Regions from separate parts of the Homo sapiens genome. Here region 2 is linked to region 1. Evidence: fine-mapped expression QTL. Tissue or cell type: whole blood. Region 1 holds a variant in brackets; the other region holds the start of a gene. All regions are shown on one strand. Distances are between the middles of the regions.

The links. PIP is the estimated chance that this variant, and not a neighbour inherited with it, causes the effect.
Region 2: SMARCD3 starts here. The variant in region 1 is fine-mapped to the expression of SMARCD3 in whole blood (TOPMed, PIP above 0.99).

The regions. Positions count from the first base shown.
Region 1 is chr7:151,270,341-151,278,440 of GRCh38, forward strand. It overlaps a transcript of SMARCD3 not described here. Among named protein-coding and RNA genes, the nearest start is that of SMARCD3, 26 kb to the left of the region's middle. RefSeq lists enhancers at 4,330-5,129, 7,283-7,992. The variant G/A (reference allele first, on the strand shown) is at 3,612.
Region 2 is chr7:151,244,623-151,252,722 of GRCh38, forward strand. It overlaps SMARCD3 (SWI/SNF related BAF chromatin remodeling complex subunit D3), which reads right to left and starts at 4,072. Exons shown (of 13, transcript NM_001003801.2): 1 at 3,863-4,072; 2 at 838-1,049. The coding sequence starts at 3,940. RefSeq lists enhancers at 16-590, 591-1,164, 1,165-1,739, 1,740-2,313, 7,593-8,100 and silencers at 827-1,126, 1,147-1,226, 2,301-2,595, 4,643-4,732.

The sequences.
Region 1 (8,100 bases):
GACAGCACCAAGAGGGATCTGGGGCTCATTTTAGAATCAGCCGTAGAGCCACCCCCTCTCTGTCCACTGCCTCACACATTTGCTCATTCATTCAAGAAATACTTCTCTGTACTGTGTGGAACAAGACAGATGCAGCCATGCCTTTAAGGAGCCCTGCAACTCAGTATTAGCCTCTTTGGTAGGTGCTGCAAGACAGAAGAGAGTGGGTGGGCCTTCACGCCCAAGCCGGGTGGGAGAAAGCCTCCCTGGAAGAGGTGGAACTGACGTGGAGGCTTCAAGGATGAGTGCAGTTAGCCAGGTGAAGGGAGCTGGGAAGGGTGTCGGAGGTGCAGGGAACAGCATGTGTGAGGGCCCTGAGTGAGGGCACGAGAATGAAGCCACTAGGAAGTGGAAGGCGGAACAAATCAGATTTGTGTTTAGGAAGCCCATTCTCGTTACTGTGCTGGGCCGGGGTCTGATGCAGGGACAAGGCTGAGTATGCGGCACTCAGATGGGGGCAGAAGATCACAGTGTGTGGACCAGGGCAGTGACGTGGGAAATCAGAAGCAGATGGAATTGACACTTATCTAGGAAATAAAATCAAATAAAAGGATGTGGCAGTTGTTCCAATGGAGAGGTAAGAAAGGGGGTGGACTTGGTCACTTCAGGTCTGGACCTGAGCCTCAATATCACTGTTTAGCAATGTGGCCCATCCACCCCACTGCAGAGGGGCCCTACTCCCTTGTCTTCATGTGTTCACAAGGAAACATGTACTGTATTCCCAGGAGAGGAGATACTGGAATGACCCTGGCCCTCTCCCCACCCTTCCTCCCTGTGGGAGGAGGCTTTGTCTGATGAGGTGGTGAGGGCCTGCACCAGCCGCACAATCCCTTTCCCAGGCGGGTGGGGTGAAGGTGCTGAAGGCAAGGCTGCTTACCCTGTGGCCAGCATTCCTCTTCTAGACGAGTCTGTTTTAGGACACAGATCATCTCCTTCTGTTCCCATGCCCAGGTAAGCAAACCCAGGTTAGGGAGTAGGACCTGCCTTCTACACTTGGGCCTCAGGTTCAAGCCTCTCTTCAGCTTGAATTTCCTTGCACTTAAGTTAACTGATGCCTGTGCCTGTTTTTCCATGGGTTCAGGACCTGTGGGGAAAGACCAGGACTGGTCCCTCCTCATACCCAAACTCACCTGTGGGGCCTGTGTGCTTAAGGAGCTCTTTATTTCCTATAAGGATATTACCCCTACCTGGAGAATGTGACTCTGTACTTAATTTCCAATTTTAAATAAACCTTCCTGCTGCCTGATATTTATCAGAAACATTGTTGTAAATATCAATATAGAGAGTATTTCCTGGCCAGGCTCGATGGCTCATGCCTCCCAACACTTTGGGAGGCTGAAGTGGGAGGATTGCTTGAGCCCAGGAATTTGAGACCAGCCTAGGAAATATAGTGAGACCTCATCTCTACTAAAATAAAAACAAAACAAACAAAAGCTAGGGGGCATTGTGGCTTACGCTTGTAGTCCCAGTTACTCAGGAGGCTAAAGCAGGATCGCCTGAGCCCAGGAGTTGGAGGCTGCAGTGAGCCATGATCACACCACTGCACTCCAGCCTGAGCAACAGCGTGAGACTCTGTCTCTTACAAAAGAGAAAGAGGGTATTTCCTGAAGGTAGCAATGCATTCCTCTAGTTGCTCCAAATTTTAAGTTTGGGTTAAGCAATATTACCAGTAGGTTTATGGCTGGGGAGTATTGTGTTGGTCCTTGCCTTAGCCCTAGGAAGCAGTTGTGACATTGTTGAGAACATTGCATAACTTTGTCACATGGTATCCCCTTCATTTCCTCATACAGGAGAGACCTCCCAGTGGCTCGGGACCAGAAATCACGTGATTTGAGCAAGTTGTTTGATTTTTATCTCATGCACAGTGTAAATCATGTAACTGCTTGCTTCTCTGCTGGCATCGGGGTCTCTGGGCCTCGTGGTTTGCATTTGGTGCAGTAGCCACATCCTAGGCAACACCATGTTTTCTCTACTCTATCTCTGTCTCAGTTTCCTCACTATATGTATCTTTGCAAACTACCTGAAACCCTTTTCAGGATGAGGCGGAGCATAAGAACACCTCCCTGTGTCTTCCTCTCCCTCCCTTATGGCACAGTGTCCCTCACTCTAGGGCATTTTCCCAGAACGATCTTCAGTCTGGGAAAAAGGTTCACATGGGAGATGGTCCAAGTTTGTAAGTTGCAGTAGGAGGCCTGTGTGGGGCGCACGCTCATGAGGCACGTTCTCAAATCCCTGGAAGTAAGTGTAGAGTGCCAAGAATCGGTGTCACAGCTTGGAAAGTCAAGAAACCGAACGCGCTATCCCAAAATGTGGGCCTGGCTGAAGTGATCAGCCCTCCTCTACGGTCCTTTATGAGTCACCAAGGATTCCCACACCCCTCATTAGCAAGGAGCACAGGGGGACACAGCAATGGTCCCTACAAGATGTCCCTCAGCCAAGTACCCGTCAGAGGCAGGCGGTGGCCTCAGCTTGGCCCCTCTGGTACAGCAATTCCAGATGGTTAGGAGTCCAGCCACAGCTGAGGGAAGTCCACTCATCCCCGATGGGTGGCTCAGCCTCCTCCCAGTGACACCTCTAGCTCATTATCTCCACCACTTAATTTTCACTAATCATGAGCACTCACTTGCAGTCACACCGCCAGTTTTGGGGTGAGGACGGACGCCTAGGCACCAGCACCAGGGCCTGTCAGCATCCAAATGCCCAAGTGCCTGCCTGGCTGCCAAGAGCCTGCAACGCACACCGCCGATTGCATGTGAATGCAACTCCAAGATAAGATGCCAAACTTCCACCACCTTGTCACTCTTGGAGCTGGGGCTTCTGACTCATGGCCAGGGTCACTCTGGGGCCAGGTGTCACTAGGATGGACCTACTGCCCCAGGGCTCCAGCTCCAATCTTCACAGGCCTCCTCTGCCCTCCTTCCCCTGTGCCCATCCTGCAGTGACCCTTCAGGAAAGGTCTGGAACAGCCCAAGGCTCCCTCCGACTGCTGCTGGGGAGCCCCTTAGGGCCTAACGAAGGGCATGTCAAATATTAGGAGGACTCTCCACGTGGGGGACCACTTCAGGTGCACCCCTCCAGGAAGCTTAGCTGCCTCCCATCAGCCTGCCCCCCGTTCAACCTGGCCTCTAACCTCAGACACCCCAGAACTGTAGAGTGCTTGGTTTAATATACTAGTTCTCACCTTTTCTTTATGAATTTCAGCTAAAACACCAACCACCACAAACTGAGCAACCAGTCCCCAGTTCACCTCAGGTGCTGGGGAGGTGTTGGGGATAAGGGTGGGACGTTTGCTTGGAGGCCTTGACTTTCCTGCAGGTGGACTGGGGCTTCAGGTGTGGGGCTGGGCATGCCGCCACCAGGTGTGTTTCCTTGGTGATGGGTACCAGGTGACTGGTGCCTGCTGCTGCCCTGTGTGGCTTGGATCCTCTGGGCCAGGCCAGCTTCCCCAAAAGCCGGTGCCCTGCCCCATTTTGCCCTGGGCCTGCACCTCACTGGAGGAGGAGGGGCACTGGGGCAGTTTGAAGGGGAACGGGGCTGTCCCTGGCCTTCAGAGCAGCCTGGCAGGAGGATGA[G/A]TTCCTCTGCCCACTTCTGAGGAAGGAGAAGCAGAGAAAGCACTTTCATTCTGCCCACAGCCCCAGGCCTCCCCGAGCCTCAGGCTCCTCTGGGCCATTTCCAATTGCACCTTTCCAGGACTTTCCTGATGTCTCCCTCCTCAGTGCTCTGAGGCCTGTGTGGTCTGTGGCCCTTTGTGCCCAATTGTCAAGGCTGCTCTCCAAGGCCGCAGGCCCTGAGGACAGGGACTGGGCTCCACATACCTTGAGGCCCTGCCAGTACCCACCCTGTTGCCAGGTGCCTCCCACCGGTGAGGCCAGCCAGCGTGATGATGGGTGGGGCTGGGCAGGCAGAGCTCAGACCAGACTTCAGTTCCGACCCCTTACCATGCCAGCTGGGGCTCTGGGGCAGGTGGCTTTTCTGCCCAGAGCCTCAGTGTGTCCTTCTGGACAAGTGGGGACTGATGCGGACAAATGCAGACCATCTTCCTCTCACTCCTTGAGGAGGAGGCTTAGGAAGGCCCTACAAGCAAGCAATGGCCCAGAGTGCATCAGAGCTAGAGGTCCGCCTGGGGCAGGGCAGGGTTGGCTCCCACTGCGGGCTGTGCAGTAGACGGCTGCCACCTCCCTCCTGCCACAAGCGGAACCCTGCCTGGGGCCCTGAGGGTTTTTAGAGGTTTCTGAGCACAAGTTGTGCCAAGGAATCAGCAGGTTCCTTCCAGCTCGCAGAGAGCATGTGGTGTGTGTGCATGTGAGCATGTGCACGTATGTGCACGCTTCTTCATGTACGCAGTGAGAGGAGATGGGGTGTTGTCTGGCTGTCTAGGTGGGGAGGAAGTAGAGCATGCCAGAGCCCAGACCATGCTCACATGAACCCAAAACTTGGTTTCAGGTAGCTTGTCCCTGGCTCAGAAAGGCTTTGAGAGGCAGGACCTAAGGACACCAGGAGGTGAGAGGACACGCAGGAAAGGGAGTGTGGGATGGAGGGAAGGACATTAATGACAGGTGTCAGCAGGGGTGGGGAGAGGGACAGAGAGGCCCTGCCATGGGCACTAAGGAGTCCAGCTGGGGGCAGAAATGCCGGGAGGGGGCCATGTGGTGGGAGCAGGAGCCGAGGGCTGGCCGACTCGCCATGGGGCCCCAGAGCTTCTGCTCCTGGGCTGGCAGGGGAGGAAGCACCTACCTGTACCACGGTGGGTGGGTGCTGAAGACCTGGAGTCATAGATGGCAGGGTCCTGCACCTGGAGAGTCATCCAGTGCCCCCTCGGTGCCTGGGCCCGGAGCCCACCGCGCCTGCAGCACCAAGGGCCATTCTGAGGATCTGAAAGGAGAGGTCAGACCCTGAGCCCCAGCGTAGATTCAAGGAGGCCTCGGGAAGCTGCGAAGAAGCCAAACTCCCCGGAGTGGAGGTCTGAGGAAGCCAGGACACTGTGCAGAAAAAAGGGCCTAGGATGGAGGCAACCAGCATGGGCCAGCTGGGGCTGGGGTGGCACAAGGCAGGGCGCAGGTGGGAGCAGTATGTGTGGGAAGCAGACAGAGACCGGCCCCAGGGTCCTGCGGGACAAAGAACTTGAAAGACAGAGCAGGGACCCCAGGCAGAGCCCAAGCCCTGACTGGAGAGGCCAGTTTTGGGGGTGTGGCAATGGTTGGAGGGAGAGAGCTGGGCATTGGAGGCAAAGGCCAGAGGGCAGGTCAGGATGGTAACTGGGATGGCCCTGGAGCCCAGGGGCATGGAGGGACTCCAGAGGTGGCAGGCAGGTAGTCAGCCTGCTCCATGACTACCAGCTGGCCTAGGCGCCTCCCTCCTGGTCCCTGCTAGTGCCTGCTCTGTCCTGTCCTGCCCTGCTTCCTTCCTTGCTGGAAGAGCAGGAAGGCCTCCAGCTCGTTGGGTCAGGACCCAACTTATGAAATGAAGTCCCTGAGCAGACGGTGGGGCATGGGAGCTAAGAAGAGAGCAGTGCTGTAGGAGCGGGGTGTGGGTGACAGAGGTGGGGCTTGGGAGTGGCTCAGGGTCTGGTTAAGCCATGTGAGCAAAAGAGGCTGCTGCCCATGGATCAATCCTGAGCAGGGTTGGGAGGAAAGGGGATGAGGAAGGAGGAGGCTGGAGACAGGGAGTGCTGGGGATGGGAGAGCTGGTGGGGTCCGGGAGACAGAGTGGGAGGGGAGGATGAGGAGAGGAAGATGCGGTAGGGGAGGGGCTACCAGTCCAGGGTCGGGGGGGAGGTGCCCTGCAAGAAGGTGGGGGACAGAGGGACAACCTGAATAGGAGAGGGGTATCCAGGGAAGACGGTGGCCAAGTGGAGACAGAGAAGGTGCCAGGCAGGGGAATGATGGGAAGGTGCTAGGTAGGGGAAGGAGGGAGAGGATGCCAGGCAGGGGAAGGAGGGAAGGTGCCAGACAGGGGGAGTAGGAAGCAGAGCATGCCAGGCAGGAGCAGGTTGAGAAAGTGCTCGGCAGGGGGGAGGTGACAGGCAATGGGAGGAGGTGGTGCCAGACAGGGGGAGGAGGGGAAGGTGCCAGGCAGGAGGGTGCCAGACGAGGGAAGGAGGGGAGATGCAGGTGGAGGGAGGATAGGAAGGTACTGGAGAGGGAAGGAGGGGAAGATGCCAGGCAGCGATGGGGAGGAGGTGGTGTCACAGAGGGGCTGAATGGGAGTCTGCCAGTCAGGGAAGAGGTGCAAGGAAGGGGTAGGAGGAAGAGGTACGAGGTTGGGGTGGGGGTGGAGGGAGGTGCCAGGCGGGGGGACGGAAAGAGTCAGGAGTGGGGGGAGATACCTGGAAAGGAGGAGGGGAGGAAGATGCCAGGAAGGGAGAAGGGGATGCCAGGTAGGGAGGAGGGGAAGTGCCAGGTGAGGAGAAGGTGCCAGGCAGGAGAAGGAGGGGGGATGCCTGGCAGTGGGAGAAGGGAAGCCAGGCAGGGGGAGGAGGGGGAAGCCAGGCAGGGGGAGAAGGGATGCCAGGCAGGGAGGAGAAGGGATGCCAGGCAGGGGGAGGAGGGGGATGCCAGGCAGGGGGGAGGAGGAGGAGGAGGATGCCAACAGAGGCGAGCAGAGACTGCCAGGCAGGGAAGGCGGGGGCGCCGGCGCAGCGCGGCCGGGAGGCGCCTTCGCCAAGGGCCGTGGGGGCCGCGCGGCGCGGGTCGCTCACCTGCTCCCCCGGGACCCCGGCCCGGAGCGCGGCCGCCCGCTCCCTGCTCGGCGCTCGGCTCGGCCCGGCGCCTGCGCCGCTGCAGCCCGGAGCGGGGGAGGCGCAGGGAGCGTCTGCAAAGAGCGAGGAGCTTAATAATGAGTTAGGGACCGGAGCAGGAAGCGTCGCCCCATCCAGCCGTCGGTGTGCTCGCCAGCTCGGAGGCCCTCGGCGGGCCCTGGCCAGACCCGTTGTGATCTTCAGCCTGTACACAGATGTGTCGTAGGCCTGTGCTTGCATCTGCACGCCCACGAGTCACACACGCAGTCAGCATCCTGTGTGGCCGCAGACATCACCTACACTAGGACCACACACGCGCATGCACGTGGGCGCGCACACACAGGCACACAAACGGTTGTCCTCACACAGATTCAGTCAGATCATCCTATGTGGCTGCAGACATTACCTAGACGAGGTCCCGGACACCCATGTGCACCCCCCACCCCCTCAAAACGCACATACCCTGGGAGGCTTTGGGTCCATCAAGCCTCAGGGCCATGTTCTCACTAATGCCAATCTCCTCCTTTTATGTACTCAATACTTAAATTTGGCAGCTTGGAGAAGCCTATTCCCAGCTTCCAGCCAGACAAGCCCAGCTCTGGCCATCTCATGGGCTCTTCCAGGGCCCCGCCTCACACGGCTGAGCTACCACAGTGCCCAGCACAGAGGGGGACCCCAGCCTACCTGCAGAGTGAAGGAGCCCTAGAGAGCTCAGGCAACGGCGGGGGAAGTGGGAGCACCTCCCTAAGCAGCCAGCGGGCAGGGAGCCTGCCAAGCATTTGGGGCCAGGTGGGCCTCGTAGGCCCCCAGTAGGAGGCAGGCAGGCAGCAGGGACCCATGGTCTGAGGCTGAGGTCAAGGTCAGGTCCTTCTCCCTCAGGTTCCCGTCTCTGCCCCTGCCGATATCCAGCCTCTCCCCCAGGCCAGGTCACACCTTCAACACTAGGGGTATTTTGGGGTCTGGGCTCTGCACTGCCTGGGTTTGTCTCTGTTATGGGCAGGCCCAAGGCAGAGACAGAGCTTTTCCACCCCTTCCCTTTCTGGTATCTTCCTATCCTCCCTTCATCTGAAAATATTTCTGTTTTATTCTTTTAATTTTTTTTTTTTGAGATGAAGTCTTGCTCTCGTCCCCCAGGCTGGAATGCGATGGCGCGATCTCGGCTCACTGCAACCTCTGCCTCCTGGGTTCAAGAGATTCTCTTGCCTCAGCCTCCCAAGTAGCTGGGATTACGGGCACCTGCCACCATGCCTGGCTAATTTTTGTATTTTTAGTAGAGACGGGGTTTCACCATGTTGGCTAGGCTGGTCTCGAACTCCTGACCTCAG
Region 2 (8,100 bases), 26 kb before region 1:
ATTACCATTTGCTGTACAAAATGACGATGCACTTTACTAAAGAATTCATCATGGGATTCCTATAAGTGGTGATTTTTTCCCCGATGTGTAAAAAATAATAATGAGGTAAAATTGATATTACACCTTTTATAGAAACCCATCTGTTGTGCAAAAAAAGCATGTGTATTTGGCTAAATACTGAAACCCGGAGGGGCACTGCTGTTGCCAGGAGCCAGCAGGGGCTTTGAGGGTGCCACCAGCTGCTGGAGGAAAGCAAGGAAATGGGCTGGCCCTGGTGGCTTGAGAGCAGACCTGGGCCAGAGTGCCTAAGAATTAAGAGCAGGACTGGGTAGAGACCACCTACCCACAGGGCAAATCCCCAAGCTCCACCCCCATGGTCAGAGAGTCCCATTGAGAAAATCTGGAGTGGCTTTGAAACAGCCCGGGGGCCGGCAGGAAGGCTCAGCGGAGAACCACACTTTGGGGAACACAGTCCTACACCTCTGCCCTCAGTCCCACTGGAAGCCCCGCCCCCACCCCAAAGACTGAAGCATCACCCAGAACCTGATGGGTGGAGAGAAGGACTGAGCAGGTGACAAGGAGAAGGGTGAGGGGAGCGTGCAGGGAAGCGGTACCGGCTGCCGACGCCGCAGCCTGTCTCTACCGTGGGCACACAAAAGAATCAGGCCGGTGCCCCCTAAGCCTACCTCCCCAGAGGGCATTCGACCCGGGAAGCCTCGCTCCCTGCTAATCATTCTTCCTCGCCCCTTCCAATCCCCGCTACTCGCTTACCTGGTCCCTGCGGGTCCCCCAGGGCCCGCCCCTGCACGCCCCCTCCTCGCCGGGCCTCCCACTCACCTGCGGCTCCGCGCGGGGGCGGTGGGCACCGGCTGGCCCTGGCTCTGTGCCTGGCTCTGCCCGGGCGGGGGCGCTGCTCGCTTGCGGGCGGGCTCCATGCCCGCGGGGGCCAGGCCGGGTCGCACGGCGGGGCTGCCCATGTACGGGGAGCCCGGGGGGCCCATGGGCGCCCCCTGGTGGGGCATCCGGGCTCCAGACGGCATCCCGGGGCGCTGGGGGTGGGCGGGGGTGAAGCAGAAACGGGCGCCCGTGGGTCAGACCAGGGCCCCCCGCTCCAGGCGCGGTGAGCCGGCGTCTCCCCTCCCCCACCAGACCCTCGGCTGGTGACCCTGAGCGTTGAGCGATGGGTGGGAGCGATGGGTAGGAGGGGCAGGGGCGCCGGAATCTGCGCGGCTCTGGCGGAGGGGCTTGGCGTCTGGCTGCAGGAAGCTAACTGAAGCCAGGCACCGCACAGGGCATTGCGAGCCTCGGGGCTGCGGAAGGTACCGCAAAAATGAATATTAATGGCGCCTTTCAACCTTTCAAAGATGTTCACATCCACATGCTCCTCTGCAAGACAGCCTGAGCAGGTCCTTTCATCCCCACTTGACGGATGGGGCCACTGTGGCTCAAGGAGAAAAATGACCTCGCCAAGGTCACACAGCTCATCCTGGCCCAGGCAGCCCCTGAAGGGCTGCCTCCTGGGGGCCCAGGGCTTTGCTCTCTGCGGCTTGGTTGAGGTCCGGTACCCGGCTCCCTGCTCCGACTTCTGCTCCTCCTCCTGCTCCTCCTTCTCAGGCTCCACTTCTTGGGCGGTTCTGCCTGGTACTCACTAGCTCATCTCAGCCACTCTGCTCCCTGTGTCCCTGCTTTTGACCCTTGGGTCCCAAACCCCACTCCCCTCGGCTGACTCCAAGTCCCCACATCCAGGGTCTTCGCTGACCAAGCTGCCCCCATAATTTGCTCCCAGGGTGAGGGCTGGAGGCAGGGCAGGCAAGGGCAGCCTGCTGGGGCGCCCCAGACACAGCCAGGATTCTCTGATTGGGAGGAGGGGAACTGCGTTAGAGGTGGGCTGCCCAGGGGGGCCTGGGGTGGGTCAGGGCAGTGACACTTGCACTCACATTTCCCTTCCTGTCTGCCCAGGTCAGCAGCCACCTCCTCCTCTTCCCATCCCCACCCCAGTGAGGTCAGCAGTCAGGGTTCATGGGGGCTGTGGAGACTGAGAGGAGGCGGCTCCTCCTCCCTTGCCACTACCCCTGGGTGGTCAGATGGGGTGTAAATGAGATGCAAATGCATCGAGCGAAGTGTTCCAAACCCCACTTGTCCAGACTCCAGAAGGGAGATGGGGAGGGCCAGAGAGAGTTTCAGGGGCTGTGAAACAGAAAGAGCGGGGTGGGATGGGGACTGGGACCACGAAAGCAGGAAGAAGATCAGAGGGCAGGGGATGCAGACCCTGGCACTGTTAACATGGACACACCACCCACCTCACCCCCAGGCATGAGGAGGGGCCCCCTTGGGCTTGCTGTTTTCCTTCCAACTGCTACCTCTCCCTCCTGGTCCTCCAGGCTCTGTGTCTAACCCTAATGTCCTCCCACCCTCGGTCAGCAGCTGTCTCTGCCTATCTCTCCTGCAGTGAAACCTGCCTGTCCATGTGTCTGCTTCCCTCACCCCACCTGACCCTGTCACTCAGGCCTCCAGGGTAGCAGCCCAGAATGGAGCCCAGGCCTGGCCACCAGCTAGGTGGGGCACTGGGGCTCACAGCCACTCAAGAACTGAAGCTGTAAGTTGACCAGATTAAAAAAACAGTCCACGTGTACAGCCTCTCCCCACTAGATGGGCCTTTTTAAAGGGGCTCCCACCAGCAGCCAGGTTAGGACTGGTAACTCAGCTAGCTGACATGGACACCTTGGGAAGTTACCCCCAGGGGTCCCTGGGGCTGGAGGACAGGCCACTCCAGGGAGTCCCCCTCTTCCTGTCAGCTGCTCTCCCCAGTTATCAAGGCCAGGGATACTGGCCCATCTGCTGAAGAGGCCCTGAGAGGGAGGCTTTCAGAGCCCCCAGAGAGCTGTGCCCGCCACCAGCCCCATCCCCATGAAAGGCCAAAATCCTAGGGACTCTGGCCTTACTGAGAGGGTGTCTTCCTTGGGGTCACAACCAAATTTGGCCATAGTAAACCCGACAGCTTCCTCTACACAGGGCCTCCACTCCCTCACCCATCCCAAGAGTCGCAGCCCCTGCTTCTCCCATTCCCCACCCCTCCATACCCCTCCCAGCCGGGCCCTACTGACTCAGCTCCAGCCTCCCGGGCTCCCACGTGCCTTCACAGCCTGCCTGTGGCAGGACAGTGCTCCCCTGTCCCTTCGGTCTCTAGGCCTCATGTCCCCAACTCCAGCCCCTTCCTTCACATGTTCGAGGAGTTAAGGACATCAGCTTCTGGTGGCTGAGTCCGCCAAGGAGACCCTCAGAGCCCCTAACTTGGGCTAAGTCCCTAGAGCGGTCCTCTCCCCCACCCTAAGGCAGAAGCTCCAGAGCCCTCCCGCTGGGATGCAGAGGTGGCTCAGCCTGCGAGCTTCCCGCTACAGTGCCTCCAGGGTCACCTGCTCCTTGCTCCGGAGACACAAGCAGTGACACTGTCCCAACGGATGAACAGACAGCCCAGCCCAGCCTCTGCCATGTCCCCATCCCCCACCCCCACCCCCAGGGCAGGGGCAACACCTGGGCCCACAAGGAAAAGAACGAAAGTCAACCTGTCGGCTACAGCGAGGACCCCCTACTTGGGGGGTAGAGTCCCCAAGTCCCACCCCCGCCCCTGACAAGAGCCATGCAAACGCCTCCCTTCCCCGCCTCGCGTCAGACCCGGCCGGCCGCCTGGCGACGTGTTCGGGTGCCAGGGCGCCAGCACAGTCCCGCGGCCGGGCCGTGGGCCATGACGCCCCCCACTAGAGGGGTGGGAGAGCGGGAGCGCCCTCCCGGCCCCTCCCGATCAGCCCTCCATTCAGCCCGAGCCAGCTCGCTTGCCCTCCCCCGCTAACTTTCCCCCACTCACCACCCCATGGACCAGAAACTCAAAAAGTTTGCTTTTCGTGGCTTTGCGCGCCCCTCCGGCAACTTCGTCCGCGGCCATCGGGGTGGGCTCAGCGGCTCCTCTCACTCTCTCTCTCTCTTCCTCTTTCTTTCCCTTTTCTGCCTTTTTTTTTCCTCCAACTCTCCCCTCTGAGTCCTGCTGGGCTCTCTCACACTTCTACTCGAGCGGAGTGGGGAGGGGGCCCCTTCAGGGCTGCCCTGACGGCCCACGGCCCACGCCGCCGCCGCCCGCCCGCCGCCGCCGCCGCCGCCGCGGCTGCCGCATTCCTGCACTGATAAGACAGAAATAGTCCGGCGGCCCGGGGTCTGCCTGTTGACTCGGCGGGGACGGGGCCGCCTGCCTTTCCAAGCCCGCTGTCCAAACAGCGCAGATAAGCGGCGAGGCGCGCCGACCAGCCCGGCCGCGGGCGCTGGGCAGCAGTGCTGCAGCCCGAAGCCGCCGAGGCCCGCGGGAGGCGGCGCGGGGAGGGGACGCCAGGGGAGGCGGCGGGGGGTCGCCGGCCACCGGCTCTCGCCACAAATAGTTTCTCCGTCAGGGAATTCGCCGGCCGCGCCAGGCAGGGAACAGTCAGTTCCAACTTTTCCCCCAGCGGCTCCTGCTGCATTTCTGAGGCCCTTTCCCCAGAGACCTGGCAGGCCGAGCAGGGAAACATTCGCTGGCAGGAACCGGGGGAGCCCGGCCCGCGAGGCCTCGCGCCTGCCCGGGGCCGGCGGCGGTGGGTGTGCCCGGGCGGCGGCGTGGCCCTGCGTCCACTGCTGTGTGTGCCCTTGTCTCACACGCCGTGTGTGTCCGCGCCCTTTTGTGGCGTGGCAGCTTATGTGCGTGCAGACAGACGCCCTGTATGTGTGCCTCCCTCCACGACAGCCTCCGTGCGCGCGCGCCTGCGTGTGTGGCAGGACATGGCCTGTGCCTTTCAGCTCTGTGAGAGGCTATTTCTGGGTATGTGAGTCTTTGTTTGCCGCTCTGTGAGAAAGTGAGGGCAATAGGGGAAGTATTTCAGAAAGAGGGACAGGGATTGTGCTCATGAGAACAGGAAGAGAATGAATGTGGGGAATGGCGCAGCGCCAGGGGGGTGCTCGGGTGGGTGCGTGGAGAGAACGAGGCAAGCTGGGCTTGGTTTCCTTGGGGTGGGGGTGGAGTGGGGTTAGGGGACCCAGAGGAGTTGGGGCAGCTGGGCTGGGTATAGTGGGTATATTGGGCCGGCCTCAAGACCCCAAAGAGAGGGGTCTTGAGGCTGGGGTGTGGCGTGGGGTGGCAAGGGAGCCCCAGAAGGGGCGTGTGGAAGGAGTTGGCAGTCCCTGGAGTGGAGGAGGGACCGGAAGGAGGAGGGGCAAATCCTGACATACCCAGGCAGGGAGTCCTGGGCCTACCCAGGTCCCCAAAGGCCACGCCCCTTTTTTCTCCTTCTTGGGGAGGAGCCGTGGGCTTTGGAACAAGGCCCTTGGGTCAAGTTTGGGGGTCTGCTGGGGCCTCACTGTGAGAATCCAGGTGAGGGCAGGACCATAGCCTAGTGCCTAGGGGAGTTTGTTGAAACACTTACTTGAAGTTGGGCCCTGAAGACTGAAGGGTACTGACCCTAAACCCTTCAGAATGCCTTTGCCCAGGGGGTCCTTTCTGCCTGCAGCCTGATTTCTGCTGGCCCTGGTTGTGCTCTTGGCTGTCACTGTTCATTTAGGTGCCCACTGTCAATCTGAAATGTCAGGGAGGACATCTGGTCCAGGTTGCTCCTCCACCACCCCTAGCTTGAAAGGGGACCTAGAGATCCCCTTGCTACCAAATCTCTCCCAGGGCTTTAGCCTAGACTACCCCCCACACACCCCCACACACAGAGCCTGGGCCCTGACACGGTGGGGATGGGTGGGTGGCCTGCCTCTGTCTGCCATAGGTCATGCTGCTGGGAACCTGGGGAAGTGACTTGCCCAGTCTGCCTGCTAACCTCCAGAATCCCCGCTCACTCCCATTTCTTAGCCCCTGCCCCCGATTCTTTTACCTGGAATGCCCTTTGCCTGCCCTCTGCCTTCCCTCTGCTTGTCCAAATCACACCTATTCTTTAAAGCCCAGCCCAGGCCCCACTTCCTCCAGGAAGCCTTCCTTCGTCCTACTTGTATGCAAAGATTTTTCTCTTCTCCAAATGCTCATTGCCATCTACCCAGCACCATGAATTGGCATTGGACTGGCCTGACGTGCACTGTGCTTCAAGGACATTAGCTTTGCTTTCCCAGAGAGGCTAAGGTCCCCATAAGGTCAGAGACTGATCTTTAACTCCCACTCTTCCTCCATGCCTGGGCACAGGAACTCAACAGTACCCCAGATACCTGATGCTTGCAAAGCTTAATGAGCCAATGCATGGAGCTGGTACTCTGCCATTTACCTGATGGTGTGAGTTACCATGGGCACCCCCACCCACCATGGGTGCGTCTAGCAGGGGCATGGGAAACCACAGGCCTTGGAGGTTCTGGGGGTTGGAGATAGACACCCCTAGGCTTTGTTAAAGCTCAGTGTTCTCAACTATTGGAGAGACCTTTTGGGAAAAGAAGACAGCAGAGGAGATGCTGGGCACTCCAGTTTGGGTAGCTGGGAAGTTTGAGGCAGGGCCTGGGAGATCCCGGGCTTGGTCTTGGTGGTGGAAGAGGTTGCGGGAGGTAGTTAGACGAGGGGCTATGGTGAAGCCCCTGTGGAGGAGCTGGTGAGCTTCACCCAAGTCCATACATAAGCGCTCTCCTGAGCCACCCCTCTGGGAGACATCCTTAAGTGTACACAGACAATAGATACACCTTGCACACACACCCTCCCAACACACACACAGCAGGCACACCAATACAAGCACCAAAAGGTCGAGGAAGCCACATGGCTCTGCACACACAGGCACACCTTGAGCACCTCCACATCCCGTGGTGGGCCCCATTCACAAGGCAGGCCCAGACACATTTGCGTACTGCTTTTAGGTGGGCGACAGGAGGAGCCTTCAGACCAGAAAGCTGGGGCGGCGCCAGTGTGGGGGCCCGGGCCAGGGCTCCCTCCTCACAAAGGCCAGGATCCCCAGTGGCTTAACCCCAGAAGGGCGCTCGGTGTGCCACGCCGCCGATGGCTCCTGCGGGTGGGAAGGAGGCCCGGGAAGAGCGTGGATTCCTCCCAGCGCAATAGGGCGCCCGCCGCACTTGGGGCAGGCCGTGCGCCTGTCGGGGGCGAGGGCGGCCGCCCGGCGCCCGGCGCCGCAGTCCCCCCTGCCGTCCCCCCATCGCTCCTTCCCTCGCTGAAGCACCACCAGCACCAAATGGCAAAGCGCCGCTCCCCGCGCAGGGAGAGATGCGCCGCGGCCTGCGGGACGGGCTCGGCCGCCTCGCCCCCACCGCGCCCGAGCGAGCGGGCGGCGGCCGGGGAGCTGGGGGGGCTCGGGCCGGCCCGGCCCGCGCCGCCCCTCCCTCCGCCCGCGCCGGTCCCCGGCCTGGGCATGCGCGCCGCGGCCTCCCTCCCGGTGAAGGTCAGCCCGGGGCCCAGCTGCAGGACTCCGCGGCGGCCGGGGAGGCGGCGGAGGGAGGAGGGATGCGGGGAAGAGACTTAACTCCTTCCCTGCGGGAAGATGGCCACCTAGGCCGGGCCCCAGCCGCAGTCCCGCCCTCCTGCCCTCCGTGAAGGTCCCACCACGGGGACTCCGCTCGGGGGGCGCGGCAGGAGGAGCAGGAGAGCGGGGAACATGGAAGAAGGGGCTGGAAGGAGAGAAGAGAAGCTGGCGAGGGGATAGGGAGGAAGGGAAGGGAGGAACAAAGGAAGCGAGACTGGAGGGAGAACGGATTGCTTGGGAGAGAGCTCTTTCCTCTATTCCCTTTTCCCTACACCCCCAGCAATAAAGCTCTCCTTAGGAGAATACGATCACCCTCACTGGGGCGGCCTGAGTGAGTGTGTGTGTGTGTGTGTGTGAGAGAGAGAGAGAGCGAGAGAACGCGAGAGGAGAGGGAGAGAGAGAAAGAAAGAGAGAGGGAGAAAGTGAGACCACTTGGCGCTGTGAGGACCACAAAGCCTTGGTTTCGGTGTTCTGGCCATCTCTAAACCAGGCCCCACTTTCCGCCATCCAGCCTACCTGCCCGGGCTAAGCACCAGCCTCGGGGGACCTCTGGCTAGTCCTTGGGGTCACGCCCAGCTCCAGAGAGGGAGGAGGGGAGACTACCTCAACCCCCGCCTCTGGTGACGGTCAGCAGAGG